Regions from separate parts of the Homo sapiens genome. Here region 1 is linked to region 2. Evidence: fine-mapped expression QTL. Tissue or cell type: lung. Region 2 holds a variant in brackets; the other region holds the start of a gene. All regions are shown on one strand. Distances are between the middles of the regions.

Region 1 (8,105 bases), 290 kb after region 2:
AGAAAATTAGCATTCTAATATTAGATATTAGTCACTGCTATATACCACAAAATAACCCATGCAACTATAAGAAAATGCAAAGTAAAGCATTCCCCAAATTTACCTACTACTATAAGAAATCATCATATCAACAGTGGGGACTCAATCATTATCATCAAGTCTACCGTTTTGCTTAAAGAAAAGAAGCCAAATCAGGGACTTAATCTATGAACATATCACTCAATTTAATAACATCCCTATGAGTTTTGGATCTCAAATCATCTCCCTCTGGCAAAAGGGGCATAATCATATGTTTTTCTACTGGACTGCATTCTTCTATAAACATTTGAAAGAATGCATCTGCTTTACAAATAAAATAGTCAATACAAAGAGCAGTAACAATAAAAATATATGCCTGTTTTTATACTATTACTGGTTTATAAGGCAATCATCTGTAATGCTCTCATCTACAAGGATGGAAAATAATATAGAACTGTTACCAAGGAAACAGTGAAGTAAAACTGCATGTAAACTATCAAGCAGTTTAAGAACCAGAAAATTAGAAGAACGGGAAAAACCATCTTCAGATAGAACCATGACACACTGTGCCACCCACGAAGGATGCAATCAAGGGTCATAACTCTAACTGATGATGTAAAGGGTGCCAACTACTTACCAGCAATTCCAACACTTGGCAGCAATTTTTTTTTAATGGTACTGGGTTATTGAGGGGCACTGTCAATTCTGATTTTTCCCACGATTAAAAGGGTATAGATTCTGGAAACGAATAGTTAAATGTAGACACTCTAAAAAGTCAAAATATGCAGTTTATTTATTCCAGTGTCGAATAATATTCTCTTGGAATTCTCTGTAATTACACTGTCTTTACTCACAGATAGGACACTAAGCAAATATCACTTCCAAGATATGCCTTCTGAATTAACATTTAGAAGCTCAAGTTTGTAGGAACCAAAGGTAAGGCCAGGTACCCAGGGTAACTACATGTGTTTGCCTCTAAACCAAGAGAATTTTAAGCACTGAAGTAACCATGCTGATCAAAGCTAAATCCTTTAGGAAGATTATCCATTCTGAAATCAGGAAAATCCTGCAGTATAAGCACTTTCATACTTCACCTTTGAGAAAAGAACTTGCTTTCTGTAACAGTGTTTAAAACACATACAAGACTTTCTTCCTCCCAAGGCAGAAACAAGCAACTGCAAACATGTGTTTTTACATGCTGATGACCCTCTAAAGGTACTTCTATCTCAGCACGGGGACCATCCTCGGGCTCACACTAAAGAAAAAGAAGAATTCTATGGATGGAAGATTTCTTAATCGGCACATCAGCTCAGAACATTTGCACCTTCTGTCTTTAGAATAAACACTCTACTGGATCACATTAAGGATAGAAAGTGAAACTCACACTCATTTACTAAATTTTAAACTCTCTTTAAAATAAGATACCACTCTCCCCACAGCCTTGCTTGAGTTTTGCAAAAACTCAGATTTGTGAATATCATGTAGGCATCCTAGAATTTAGTAAAAAGAATATGAAACATCTTTTCACTGACACATGACACTGTCCTCTCCAAAGTTCCTAAGTTTAAGGACTAAATCGAGGCTCTAGATGTTTTGTTAAACTGTTTTTAGCATCTGAGGCCACCAAAAAGTATCCTGGTTACTTTGAACTATACTATTGGTTGAACTTCCCTTTCCCTTTAGCAGTATCTCTGTCCATCACACGGAGGGTACCACTTAGCCTCTAAACTTGCACACAGCTGCTTCCCAACCATGGTTCAATATTTGACAGCTGTTTAGAAACTAGCCCTAGGCAGAAGCATGCAGGAAGTTAATAGAATAGTGGTGTGAAGCAATGGCCCTCTATGAGATCAGCTTGAAAGCAAACAATTGGCCACACCACAATCATCCACTGCTTAACACATCAGTCTTCTGATCTGCAGGACAACACCTCTTCCTGAGCTGCTCTAAGACACAGGTATTTACCCATCAACTGCGTATCTCCAGTCTACTTAGAGTAAGCTGCACTGGGCCTTTCTGCCTGGGGAAATCTGCTAGTGGCATGAAGACTGACCCATGTTAGTAGAAAGGGAAGGTGGAGATGGGCAGGCAGAACAAAGACCTGTAGATGTCGGAGAGAATGGCAACATCCAAACAGAACCTTTCTGAAGTGGTCTAATGTAATTTAATAAAGCAAAGTCAACATACGTTTCTACCTCTGACTATTGGAAGCTGCTCATCCCTGCCTGATGCAATCAACACATCTCACTCTGACACTCAGGACTGAAGGAAAACCTGGGATTATTCTGTCCATATTGCAAGTAAGTTTTTAAGCTACATCCTGGAAAAACCCAACTGTCTACCTCCTACGTCCTGGTGGTAGCTGCTATAAAGAGCTCCAGGGGCAGAGAAGGTTGGGCATGGTTTTCTAAGACCACTCCTATTGGGCTCTTCCCAATTAATGCCACATAGCAAGCAGCACAAACCTTACTCTGTGGCTCAAACGAAGACTTTGGAAGCATAAGCAGGGCAGAAGACCTGGAGGAGTGCTCTGGCCAGGCAACACCTAGGCGGCCCAAGCGTGGAAATGTTCCTCTTTTATCAGTACTACCCAAAAATGTCTGAATCGATGATTTAGTTTTAGCTACTGTTTTAACAACATGGCCACTTAGAAGAAAATTTCTAAATCTTTCGAGGCTTAAGAATATAGTTACCCCCCCCCCAAAAAAAAAAAGGCTGAAAGTCTTTCTCTTCTATCTACATGACTTCGCCATCTAGGTTACCGTTGGGAGCACCTGGTCAATCTAGGAGCTGACTTTGTGGAGGTGTGGAGGTGTAATTTAGGAGTTGGGGGAAGGCGGCACTTTTGGTCTTTGCAGCTTGGAAGGCAGGCACCCAAGCTCCAAGCACTTCTGGGTTTCCCTAGCAGTAGCAATTACAACCATCTTCTCTTAGCCCTGAATTATACATGGGACCCCAAACACCGCTGGGGCTTTTCCTTAGGGAAAACAAACTGTCGTGAATGTCGGTGTGTTGGTGAGGGCATGTATGTACCTCTCTGTGTGTGGTCTACACCCGCCGCTACACAAGCCTCAGCAGCCAGTGAGAAATAAGTTGAACGTGGAAGCCCCCGGCCACTTCGTTTGTCTTAAGCCCCGTCGCGCTTTCCAGCTTTTGCCTCTACCCAGCCTCCCGAAAAATAAGGCACCAAGTTGCCCGCGGCAGCGGCCCTGGGTGCAAACGGAACCCGCGCAGCCCCTACCTCGAAAGCTTTGCAATCTTCACAAAGCTGAAGACATCCATGCAGGCAGCTGGGGACCCCCGAGCGCGACAACTCCGTCGCCCCTTCTCACGCCAGCAACAGCAGCCTCCGCAGCCCCATGGCCAAGACCTCAGTGCGCCCGGGGCTCGAGTCGCGGCGACAGCGGGTGGCGGCGGCGGCCGGAGAGAACCTGCACCTGGAGGCGGCGGCTGCTACCCCCCTCCGGCCGCGAGCTGCGTGTGCATCCCCGAGCAGGACCATTGATAGGCACCCGAGGCAGGAAAACTCAATGGAGAGGGAGCCAGGCAGGGCGCAAGAGGCGGGGGCGGGGAGCGCGGCCCGGGTCTCGCGCCCCGCCCCGTGCGCTCTAGCCCCGGGGACTGCCGGGCGTCCAGAGAAAGCGAGGCCTGGGCGAGAGGCGCTGCTCTGGCTTCCCGGCCCTCGGACCCTCGTGCCCCACGCACCGAGGAGCGCAGACGGAGCCGGGAGACGGCAGGCGAGCTGGGCACACGCGCACGCACCCCTCGCAGCACTGCAGCTGCCTCCCTGCCTCCTTCTCCAAGCCGAGTCCCTGCTCCTCTCCCCACCCCCACCCGCCCGGGGGGAGGGGGCACTCTCCTGTCACCCACTGCGTGTGCCTCTAGATCTGAAGGATCTGGTCTAACAGTCTATGGCACACTGGAGAACTGTGAACGCTACCCCTCCCTCCCCAAGCCGAAGGAGAGCCGTGCAACCGCAGGTTGCTCAAAGCCTCGGTTTGCTCCGTAAACAAAACTAGCGTTCGGAAGGAGCAGGGATGATTGAGGTTGGGTCGTTTGTCAAGGGGAAGGGAAGGGAGATGCCAGGCGCAGCGGGCTCGATTCGGGGAGCTCAGAGTTCCCACTGCTTCTCCCGAATCGCTGGGGCGAGACGTGACCACTGGGCTGGCTGGGAAGGTGTGTCTTTGGACAGCAGCACCGCGGGAGTGTCTGCCAAATAAGAACCGGAGGCATTTGCGGGTAGGGGGATGAACACAGCTGCTCCCTCCTCGAGGAGCATAGAGCGGAGGGTCCCAGGAGCCCGTGATGCGGAGGCTAATTCTAACCGGGCTCAGAATCTAAGGAAAGAGAAGGATTAGAATGGGGTCTGCCACGCAGAGCGAGCTGCTTTTGCACACTGAGCCTTGGGTGAAGGGAACAGGGAAGAAAAAAACAAAACAAAACAAAACCTTGCCGGAGAAGCAAAAACACAGAAACATAAACACTCACCTTAGGCAGAGTAAACTCCAAGTTGCAGCCATCTAGAACTCCTCCTAGCCTTCTCTTTTACATAATTACCTTGGATAATCAGCCCTGTTCATTAACTCAGTTCTACCTCCTGGGAGGCTCAGGCTTCATTGGGCCCCTTTTTCTTCTTCCTCTTGAAGTCTCAAGGCCTCTTCTCCACAATCCTTTAAAATTTCCCCCCAGACTGTGAAGGTCAGCTGGCCGCACTAAGTGTGTGCTCTCCCACCGGCAGCGTTCACCTGGCGGCAGGGCCACCGCAAAGAACAGAGAGCACCCCCAGAAATGTTGGAAGATCCAGCCAGTGTTCCAGTCTAGCTCTCCGAGGGGATTAAGAAAGAAATAGGTTTAAAGTTCCCACACTTCTGCTCCTCTCCTGGTCTGTTGTTATATTTAAAGTCTTCAGTATTCAAGCCTAGTACTAAAGCGTTTTTTTTAAGCATTTATTTCAAAAACTGAACATAAAATAAATAGCAATCTGCAAAATCTAAATGACTTAAAACTCAGGCATAAAATTACATGTTTTTGAATACATAGTTATCAGTTTTCCTGCAGCTTCTATTAAACAGGCTAGTTTAATTGCATGAACGCAGTTACTACTCAAGGATCGGAAGGGGCGAGAGGGACCTTGGCTTTTGAACTCTATTGTTTGTAAAATAATTATAGTTTGGGTCTGCACTGTGCTTTATAATTTTTAAAGCTTTTTTTTGCATTGGAGTCTCATCGCAACCTTTTCATATAAGGCAATATATTTAGAAATCTTTTATTTTTATGCCATAATCTATTCTCAACATACCAGACAAAAAGATGTTTTGTGTGTGTGTATGTGTGTGTGTGTGTGTGTGTGTGTGTGTGTGTGTTTTAACGTAGATCACATAAGGCTACTTGTCTGATCTAAAATATGTAAAAGCTCCCCATTGTCCGTCAAGCTAAAGTTGCGCTCCTGCAAGGGCCAACAGGACCCTAGATCCCGTATCCTTTGATCTTTCTTACCTCAACTATTACTGCCCACTTCCCTCTCCCGTTTTTCTCTGTCCCTCCTCATCCCCTACCCCGAGCCCCTCCTCTCTCACACACATACACTCACTGGGCTCCAGCAATTCTGGACTTCTTGCTATCCTTCAAACTCTACAGGTAATCTTCCCACCTTAGGCTCTTTGCAATGGTTGTTCCCTCAGCCTGGAATGCTCTTTCCTGGGATATCTGCATGGCCGGCTTCTCCACCCTGTCAAATGTATGCACCAATACCACTTCCAAAATGCCCCCTCTAGAAAGCCAATTTAAAATTGCAAAAGGTTCTCACACCCTGGACTCCGAGTCCCTATTAACTGTTTTATTCTTTTTTCTTGTTTCCATAGCATTTATCACCCACTAGCACACTATATAATTTATTTTTATCTTTAGGATTTCTTTTTTTTTTTTTTGGTCTGAATCTCCCACTGGAGCTCCACAAGGGCTGGGATCTTTGTTTTGTTTTGCTTTTGTTTTTCACTGATGGATCTCAAATGCCTAGACCACTTCCCCAGATGTAGAAAGAACTTAAGAAATATTTGTTGAACGAACAAATCATATGCCCATTGGATTCACAGCCAAACCAAAGCTGGCCAAGCATCCCCAGTGAGTACTGATCTGTGTATGACTTCGTGGCTTACATCTGTCTCTTTCCCCACCCATCCACTTCCCCAGCATCCTTCAACCTCCTTTGGACTGACTGTTAATGATGGCAACAAAGGCCTTCTTACATTCTCCAGTTATTTTCCCCCTTCACCTTTTCTACCTTTCCCCCAAAAGAGTGGCCACCGACACGTTCCCTCATCTCTGAGTCAACATCTGGCAGCACAAGACCAGCTCGTGATTGGGAAAAGGGGATAAAACAGTGCCTTTGGAGAATGTGTTTTGAAAAAGTGCTTCCTTCTGAGAAGAGAACAGTTGGGATGCTCTTTTTAAAAGGATTACCCTATTTATCAATAATTATTCCAGATACCAAATATCTAATTATTCAACAGTGAAAGTGACAGGAAATAGACATTGTGTTTACTTCTAGAGAGACAGCCTCCCTTGGAGACATCTGGTCTACCTGGAACAGCTTGCTGTTGGCCTTCTCCCTGTGCCAATTTGTGCGCTACGGTTATGAATGATGCAGATGCCATCTCTCCACAGCATAATAGCTACCAAGGGAAATGACTGACTTCTACAGGTCTTTACACACCTCTCATATAGTAATTATCTAGTATGTTTTCTAATGGATTGATATTGTTTTCTAAAGCAAAGAGATTCCACCCCTCCTCCTTTGTTTCTCATTAATACAACAATGGAAAAAGCTGCTCCCTTGAAACATGCTAACACAGAGTGTTTATATCTTTAAGCCATCTTGGCAGAAGGGCAGAGATTGGAGTAGTTGGTCTCTCAGCTCTGTCCCCTCTCTGTGCCAGGTGTGTGCTGCAGAGGTTAGGATAGGTTTGTCTAGCATGAACTAGATCTGCCTAAAACAAATAAAAGCCAAAAAAGTGGGATCCTGAGTACATATGTGGTTTTCTGAAGTTTTCTTATTAACCTGGATGATCTCTAAGGCCCCTTCTGGATCTTGTAGGGATTTACTAGTTGGAAACTGTATTATCCAACCTTGAGAATCTACTTAATTTGCTTTACTTAGGTTCAAGTGACATTTGGTCATTTCTGAAAACCAGACACACTTTCAAACACTGTTGAAAGTACTCATGAATAAAAGACTCAGGGTCACCAGATCCAGAGCAAGTCCTATAACTTCTCTGAGACTCAGTTTCCTCAGCTGTAAAATGGAAATAATACATCTTTACCTTACACAAAATGAGCACTTGAAGTTGGCACCAGTTTACAGTTGGCTACATATGAGTTGAGGCACATGAATATTAGCTCTAGAAGGATTTCCACAGCTGTCTGCAGCCTTGGCAGTACTGGTAGGAAAAGTTTCAGCCTGTAAGATGACTATTTAGGAGGCCCAACATTCGCTTGGATTAATCAGAGGTAGGCACTTTTGCCTAAAAATCAAACACTTTGTTGCCTGGGCAGTTACTAAAGCCCTAGGCTGTAGCATTTTTTATGCCCCGGGGGATTCTCAGGGGGAAGTGTGAGGAGCTTCATCATTCTTAAGGCCTTATCTAAAGCTGGTGTTAGGAATCTGCTATTGGGCCAGATGTTCCATATAGGTTGGCAGCTGAGGGTTCTTTCGCTGCAAGTTACAATAGAGAGAGCCCCAAGCATTTCTCAGCTGGACTGAAGCATCTCGACCATCTGGTCTCAGTCCTGAAAACAGAAGTAAATAAATAACAGCAAGGTATCCATTCAATCAGCAAATATTTATGGAGTGTCTCCCATGTACCAGGCACCACTGTAGGCACTGGGAAATAGACTAGGCAACAAGGCAAGTTTCTGTTCTCATAGAACTTATGAAGAGGAGGTAGATGATAAACAACAAAATCAGAAATTGTAGTGAACAAGAAAATAGCAGATAGCAATGTGCAGAGAATTAAAATTCTTCTGATGGAAAGGGAGTGGCTAGGTGGCTATTTGTTATTCAGTGGTTCAGGAAGACTTCTATAAGGAGG
Region 2 (8,106 bases):
GAGAGTGAGATGAGGATGGAACTGGGGGAGAAAAAGAACTCATTATGAATGTAAAATTTTGTACTAAAGAGACAGAACATTCTTAAATATGCGGTGATAAAGTACTGGAGGAGGGATTTCAGCAACCAATTAATTATCCTTTGCATCGAAACAAAATTAAGTTCTAAGGTGTTCAAATATAAGTGAGTATGTATATACATCATAACGATAACTAATGTTTTACATTATGCTTACAATGTACCAAACCTTGTCCTAAGCACTTCACATATATCAATTTAGCTAATTCTCACCATCCTATCTACAGTGTAAGGACTCCTATGATACTCGTTTTCAGAGATTAGGTACAGAGAATTTATGTAATTTCCCTGAGGTCACACAGCTAGTAATAGAGCCAGGATTCTAATCCAGTTAAAAAAAAACAAAAAAAAACTACAGCTAGAAGCCTCAAAAAATAGAGATCAGATGGAGGGCGTTTTATTTCCAAGTCAAGATTTGAGTGCATGCTAGAAGAGTAGAAGCTAAGAGATGGCTTCTGGAGGAGGTGAAATTAACCATCGGACTGATAGGAGTGTTCTTCATGAGCAAGCATCCTTCTGTGATTATGGAAGGGCAGATCAGGTTACTTTATTACTCCTTCCATTTTCCCTGTTCTGTGGTGTTTTTGTTTGTTTTGTTTGGGGGTGGCTTAAGGTCTATTAAGGGTAGAGAAAGGTGGGCGGCATGCAGACTTCCTTCTTCAGGTTAGCAGCCCTGATGAGAAAGAATAACAAGGCCTTATGCAAAACAAGATTGTCTACATTAGCTCAAACTGGGTCACTGATTTCAGGACCCAGTCTTTTCTTTGTATAATCTCTTTCCCATTCCATGAATAATCAGTTTCCAACTGCGAATACTCATCTCTAAGGTTAGGGGACTGCTCTCAACCATCCCTCAGGCCCCTCTTAGCCCTGAAAGTAGAAGATTTGAGGGCCACTGATCTCTGTACTAAGATGGTGCAGAGATCAACCATCTTCTTCACAGGCAATCAGGATCAGTGCAATTCAAGAGGGGTTACTATCTTGTTTCTATAATGTGTCTCTCCTGAAGCCACATTAAAATACTCTGACTGAAAACTACTCCATATTTCTTCCAGAAAGAGGGATCAATCCCTCTAGTCTGGGAATCCCAGTCTTCCTCAAGAGATAGTTATTGTCAAAATGTATTTTAAAATAAATTTGCTCAAGTAACAGTCATAAGACATTCATGATTTGAAAAATAACTTTCTAGAATTTTTAATGGTTTAGTATATATGGAAAATCACCTGCTGTTGAAAGCATACAAAATTACCTATACAAAAGATATCATCAAATCCTCATGAGAGTCCAACTGCATTGCCGAAGAGTATTTACATACACAATTCTCATCACTCTAATGGGAATTACGTGGCTAACACCCTCATGCATCAAAACAAAATAAAGTCCAGTAGAATTTAAGAATAGTAAAGACAGAGTAAAACAACCACACTAAGCAATCAAGACTGTATTGAGTAACAGCACATCAAGGTTTCTCAAGACCTTCTCACTCTAGAAATTTAGGACTGGATCATTCTTTCTTGCGGGGAGTTGCCGCATGCATTGTAGGATGTTTAGCAACATCTCTGGCCTCAACCCACAGGATGTCAGTAGCCCCTACCCACCCTCAGCTGTGACAACCAAAATGTCTCCAGACATTGCCAAGTGTCTCAAAATACCCCCGGTTGAGAACCAATGCATGAGACATAAGAAATATACCAGCTGTTATCTTATCAGGGAATTCTCTTAGATTCCAATGTTAATCTCTATAAAACAAGTTTACTTTGTATCTATAATGTAATGCTTGCAGATTCCCTCAATAGTGACAGGGAACAAGGTTTAGTAGGCCCAGAGCTCTAGGAAAAACAAGAGACAGCACCCTTTTACACATAATTTTTGTTTTGTTTCCACTGACAATGAAGAGAAGGGAACAAGAAATACAACTCTGGTTGGCTGGCAATTTCTGATAACTTTCAAAATTGTTCTGACAAGCAGATAGAAGAACATGATGGAACACAAAGCAAAAAGACTAAACAGGAGGAAGGTGGCACTTCTTTGAGAAATGTGGCCTAACAAAATAAAGGCACAGAAAAAAAATTAAGCACGAGTATAAGCTCAGTAGGTATGTCTGTCTTGTGAAGAAGGCAACACTCTACTTACTTATTTTGTCTTCCTGAATCATGTCAGGAAAAGTGACTAATTCGGTACAAATAATTAAAGCTGTTTAGGAATATTTTTTAAAGAAGGGTTTTTCATATTCAACCTACAGAAAATATCCCTTGGGGGAAAAAAAACTGAATTACTGAGGGATTTAGAGTAAGGCTCGTCTTTGACAAAGCAAACGCATTATAGAAGTAGCATTGCCTTTGCCCCAGTACACAAGATTCTGAAATTATAATCTTTATTTGTAATTCATGTGCCACTGGTGAACAGGGATGCTCAGAAAACTTTCAGATTATTAAAAAATGTTGAAAGCTGTCATATATTTTCATGATGTGGTAAATGGCATAATTATTTCCCAAATGGAGAGACCGGAGCATTTGGGAGATACACGGTCAGTGGTTGCATAGGCAGTAAGTCTAAGTTGAAGTCTGAACTTCAGATAGGCCTTGAACCTCGCTAATCAGAATGTGGTCCCTTGACCAACAGAAAGCAGAAGCCCGGGTCCCACCCTCGATCTATCTGATCAGAGTCTGTATTTTAACAAGATCCCCAGGTCACAATTATGCTCATTAAAGTTTGATAAGCACTGCTCTAGAGATTTCAGTTTTACCATTTAAGATCATATTTTATAGACTCTTTTGTGCCAAGAGAAATATTTTTTGAAAAAGTTCTTTCTAGAGCTTCTTGAGAAATATGAAAAAAGTCTTAAAATGAAGTCCTACTATTCAAGGAATAGCATATTATATACAAAAAGTGACAACAGAAAATGAAATCAATAGAACTAGAATTACAGTGACTAAGTAAAGCCTTCATTGCAGATGTTCTTCAAAGGAAGGGTGTCTTTAGCTGGATAGTTAACATGGGGCAGGAAAAATCAATCTGAAAAGAAATGACAAGGGTCGTATGGCAAGCTCAAAGTAGAACTACTCTATGACCGGTAACCATACCCAAGATAGATACTGCCCATCATTTCTTCACAATGACAAGTTTCGGTCCTTTTGTGCAAATGTACAAAATGCCATGCTACTAGTAACAAGTAATTAAAAACCCGAGATGGCCCCTTAAACTCAAAAGGGCATGATATGTTTTATTTTGAAAGCTTCTTGTTCTTTTCTGTTTTTTTTGTTCCTTTTTTCTTTTCTTGTTTTATACTTAACAGTATAAGACAACATGGTGGTATTTGTTAGTATCTGCTGACAAGCCTAAGCCATCCAGTAGTGTGTGATTTGAGATTATTGGGCACAGAAAGCTTTATTGGGCTTTGTCAGCAGTCCCCACATGCTAACATCATTGCATGAAGTTTATCTAATTTCAAAATGAGTAAAAGTTCAATGCATAAGGTTAAAGAGCATCAGTAACTAGCAGGCAATTAGCTCCATAAATGAAAAACAATGTTATGCAATTGAAAGACAACTGTACAAATCTTTCAAAAGTACAATAACAATAAAGTCAGCCACTGAATTGCAGAGAAAGGAATTTCAGTTACATTGATGAGGTTATTTTTCCCTTGCAAACCTTTCTGCACCCCCACCCTCACTTGGGCAACAATAATACAGTAACAGGAAATATATCAAAAAGGTGGAAGCTTAGAAGCTTAAAGCTCATAATCCCCACAGTGGCAGCCAAAAGCATAATTAAGGAGAAGCACTCATTTGTTTTCCTTCCCTTTAAAACCTAATCTCCTATTTTTCCAAGACCTTTGGGAGGAACTACGATTTAGGGTCAAGTTTTGAACAATGTTTGATTACTGCCAACTGGACCCCATGACCTTATTCAGAATGAAATCATGTACCAACAGATTTCGGGAGTGGGAAATTTTTGTTTTTTATTTTTTATTTATTTATTTATTTATTTTAGACGGCGTCTCACTCTCTCACCCAGGCTGGCGTGTAGTGGCGCGATCTTGGTTCGGCTCACTGCAACAACACTTCAGGAGCCGGAATTTTTAAGAGGTGTTTTGCTCTTCCAAAGCCAGAAAATAATCCTTTCACACAAGGACATCAGGAGCACAAGGTTATAGCCTCTAGACTTTGCTCTTGGAAACCTACTGAGTTTCCACAGGCAGGATATGAAATACCCAGCTGTCAAGAAAACCCTTTCCCCTCAAATTCTCAGCTCAGTTTGAACAAACATGACATATGCGGTCTACTGCCCTTCTCTCCCTCTAGTAAACATGAGCCTCCACAAAAAAGTCACATCTTTCCCATTTTTGGACCTCTTCTGCCTTTTAACAGGTGCAAGCATGAAGAACCAAAAAAAACCTGTGTGTTGTTCAAGTCTCTTGGCAGTTAATCCCCTTCATCTATAACAGATTAAACCAAAAAGCAAGAGGGTTACTTTCAGAGTGGAATTGACTAACTATTTCCCACTTTTATAAAAATGTATTTTCACATTTGTTTCTCCT[A/G]TATGTTTCACTTCTTACAAAAATGAAGACCGCTTTCTAGCTCACTGTGGAATCCTGGAGAGCTTTCCTCATCCTCTGTAATCATTCTGAAAGCCATTACTTATCCAGTTTCTCCTGGGTACCAGGCACCGAGCTGGGTACCTTATTTGCATTATCTCATTGAATTCTTCAAACAGCCTTTCAAACGATCCTAGTTTATTCATCTGAAAATTTCCCCAATTTTTCAGATGAATAAACTAGGATTGTTTGAACAGCTATTTGAAATAATACCTATGTTCCCCATTTTTCAGATGAATAGGATTGAATAAAGTGAATGTAATAAGAGGAAGACGCTCCCTATTCAGGTTTCAAACCCCAAATATCAAAGCCTACAGCCTGTCTCTAGCGTCCTACACGATATCTGTTTCTAGAAGATGGCTAATAAGCATTTGTTGAACCCAACTGACTTGTAGACCATGGTCGTCTTTGCCAGATAATGAGCTGAGTCCTTCAAGGGAAATGTACCAGATAAGAGACACAGGAGGTGGTGATCATGTGCCCTTTTCTTTTCAAAAGAAGCACGCCCCAAAGCCATACTCACTTATAATTCATGATTAAACACATTAAATGATAATACCGGAAAGGAAATGTTTTACATACCAAAAATGTTTTACATACCAAAATGTTTTACACCCTGTTTTCAAGGATTCAAACATGTTAGACTTTTTTACTTCCTAAGTGTTTGTGGAAATGAAGGTCTGGTGAGAGAAGGGCAAGAGGGAAGAACATAATAAAGGGAGTAAGAATGGACAGCAAGAAGATATCCAAGGCAAGAACCGGAACAGCTTTGGGACACTGCCTAGGTTTACATCTCACTGGTCTCCTTATGTGATCAACTAGAAATTCAGCCCCTGCCCCCCCAGCTTTTTTTTTTTTTTTTTTTTCTTTGAGATAGGGTCTCTGTCTGTCACCCAGGCTGAAGTATAGTGGCCCAGTCATAGCTCACTGCAGCTTGGAACTCCCAGAGGCTCAAGCAATCCTCCCACCTCAGCCTCCTGGGGTAGCTGGGACCACAGGCACACACCACCATGCTCAGCTAATTTTTTATACTTTGTGTAGAGACGGGGTCTTCCTTTGTTGTCCAGTCTGGTCTCAAACTCCTGGACTCAAGCGATCCTCCTGCCTTGACCTCCCAAAGTGCTGGGATTACAGGCTTAAACCTCCACATCAGGCCTTAAATTAAGCCTTTTTATGAAAAAGATAGAAAAAGCCTTTTACCTCCATTGCAAATATTTTAGTTTTTGAGACGTGAGCATGGAAGCCTAACCTACCAATATTATTTGATTAGAACATATGTGTTGTGGTAACTTCTGTAGTTACATTGTCTCACAGATGTGACAAAACAGTTTTCTAAAAAGGATTATTTTGTCATTAGGGTTTTTATAAGTAAAGGTCACATTTGACATAAAAAAATGGAATTACTTTTGGTGACATACTTCTTAGGACAATAACTTTTGATCAGATGTCAATTCCTCACACCCCACCCTCCTCATATATAGATAGAAGACTTAACCTGGTCAATGTGTTGCCAACTCCCATTGCCAATCAGGACGCAGATAGTCTTTCATGCAGGCAGTAGGTGAAATTATATCCATGTCTTCGAACACCTATAAATGCTATATTTTTGTAAGCACTGAAATCACTGCCTTTCTGTGCTCAAGCCACCTGTGATTGTTTGACAAAGGAAAATCAGTAAATCTGCTCACCTTTAAAGTGAAAGATAAATTGAAAAGAAATACGAATTTCCTCATTCGACAAATAGGTACGGAGAGATTGTGGTTAAGTGATGGAGCTGGAAAAGGATGCTGTGAGGATTCTATGACATGTAAGAGAGACAAGGCTGCTGCCCTTCTGAAGGTCACATCAAACATGCGGTTACATGTGTGGATTGACAAACGCCATCACAGAGCACACATAGGGTGTTACAGAAGGCTAGATGTGTGTCAGAAATCTAAACTTGAATATCAACGACCGGTGTTGAGTTAGTCAGCACTGCCTGTGTTCAGGGTAAGAAGGTGTAAATGGGGATGGGGCAGGGATGGTGGCCCAGGATGAAGGATGAAGGATCAGCATGTGTGAGGGGCTGAAGGGGAGAGCCCATGGCAGCATGGAAGCCCTTGGAGCCAGCACAGAATGCCGAGGGAGGGCAGGTGATGAGAGATGCAGCAAGTGAGGTGAGAGGTGGAGGGGACAAGTGTTTCAGGGCCTTGAAGAAATAGTGAATTGATGAGCTCTGTGCCTTGGAAGGATGACCCTGGTGGCACAGTGGAAAACAGGCTAGAAAAGAGCCAGTTAGGAGACTACTGCCATTAGTAGAGACAATGGAGGCCCGGGTGGGACAGTGTTAGAAGTTAGAGAACAGCAGATTGTTTTGAGGATTCAGGACACTGATGACACAGAGCTTGGAGATTGCTTGGATATTGTGAAAGACAGTGAGGGTTTAAGACAAAGGAAAGAGTCAAGAATGGTTTCCAAACTTCTGGTATGGGCAACTAGACAGAGTGTGGGCCATGAGAATAGAGATGAAGGAGCAGGCGTGATGGTGACATGATAAGTTCAGGGCGTGTTAAATTATAGGTGCTGGTGGAATAGGCAGGTAGAGGTGTCCCAGCAAGCTGCTCAGTATTTAGGTATGAAGATTGGCAGAAAGATCTGGGCTGAACACAGCTGTCACCAGCCTAAAGACGGTAACGGAAAACAAAGAAGCATGGAGTGTGGGAGGAGGTGAGGGCCCCACAGGTCGTTAACCTTTAAGGTTAGGCAGAGGAAGAAAAGCCCATGAAGGAGATAAAGGAGGAGGAGCCAGGGAGGTAGGAAGAACACCAGTAGTGTACATGGTGTTCCTCTCTGGACTCCTGTAAGTCAGAGGAAAAGCATTTCCAGAAGAACGGTCAAGAACAGTGTGAATGATTCCCAGAAGTCTAGTAAGGACTTGCCCTTGAATTTGGTGTCCTTGGAGCAAATAGGTTCAGTGAACTGATATGGGCAGAAGCCAGATTTGACTGGGTTGGGGAGTTTTAGACCAGCACTTCTCAACCATTTCACCCTCAGGACTCCTTTCCACTCTGAAACATTTTTGAGGACCCCCGAAGAGTTTTTGTGCATGTTGCTTACATCTACCGATATCTAATATACTAGAAAGTAAAACTGATAAATTATTGAAATATTTTTTATGTATTTAAAAACAACAATTCTATTTCATAAGTCATATCTTTTTATAAAACATAACCATATTTTCCAAAACAAAAACATTTGGTGAGAAGAACAGCATCTTTTTACAATTTTGCAGATAGATCTCTTTAATACATTGCTCGACAGATGACAGTGGGTTTTTTCTATCGGCTTCTGGATTCAATCTGTTGCAGTACTATAGGAGACAGGATGCTTTGTCCGAGACAGGAAAAACAACTTATCTTCCACCCTCACAAGGGGGAGGAGGTGATGTAGTAT

What was found. PIP is the estimated chance that this variant, and not a neighbour inherited with it, causes the effect.
Region 1: FRMPD4 starts here. The variant in region 2 is fine-mapped to the expression of FRMPD4 in lung (TOPMed, PIP 0.95).

The regions. Positions count from the first base shown.
Region 1 is chrX:12,134,167-12,142,271 of GRCh38, reverse strand. FRMPD4 (FERM and PDZ domain containing 4) reads right to left here and starts at 3,799. Exons shown (of 17, transcript NM_001368397.1): 1 at 3,260-3,799. The coding sequence starts at 3,300.
Region 2 is chrX:12,419,200-12,427,305 of GRCh38, reverse strand. All of the region lies in intron 1 of FRMPD4 (FERM and PDZ domain containing 4), which reads right to left. Among named protein-coding and RNA genes, the nearest start is that of FRMPD4-AS1, 48 kb to the right of the region's middle. The variant A/G (reference allele first, on the strand shown) is at 4,618.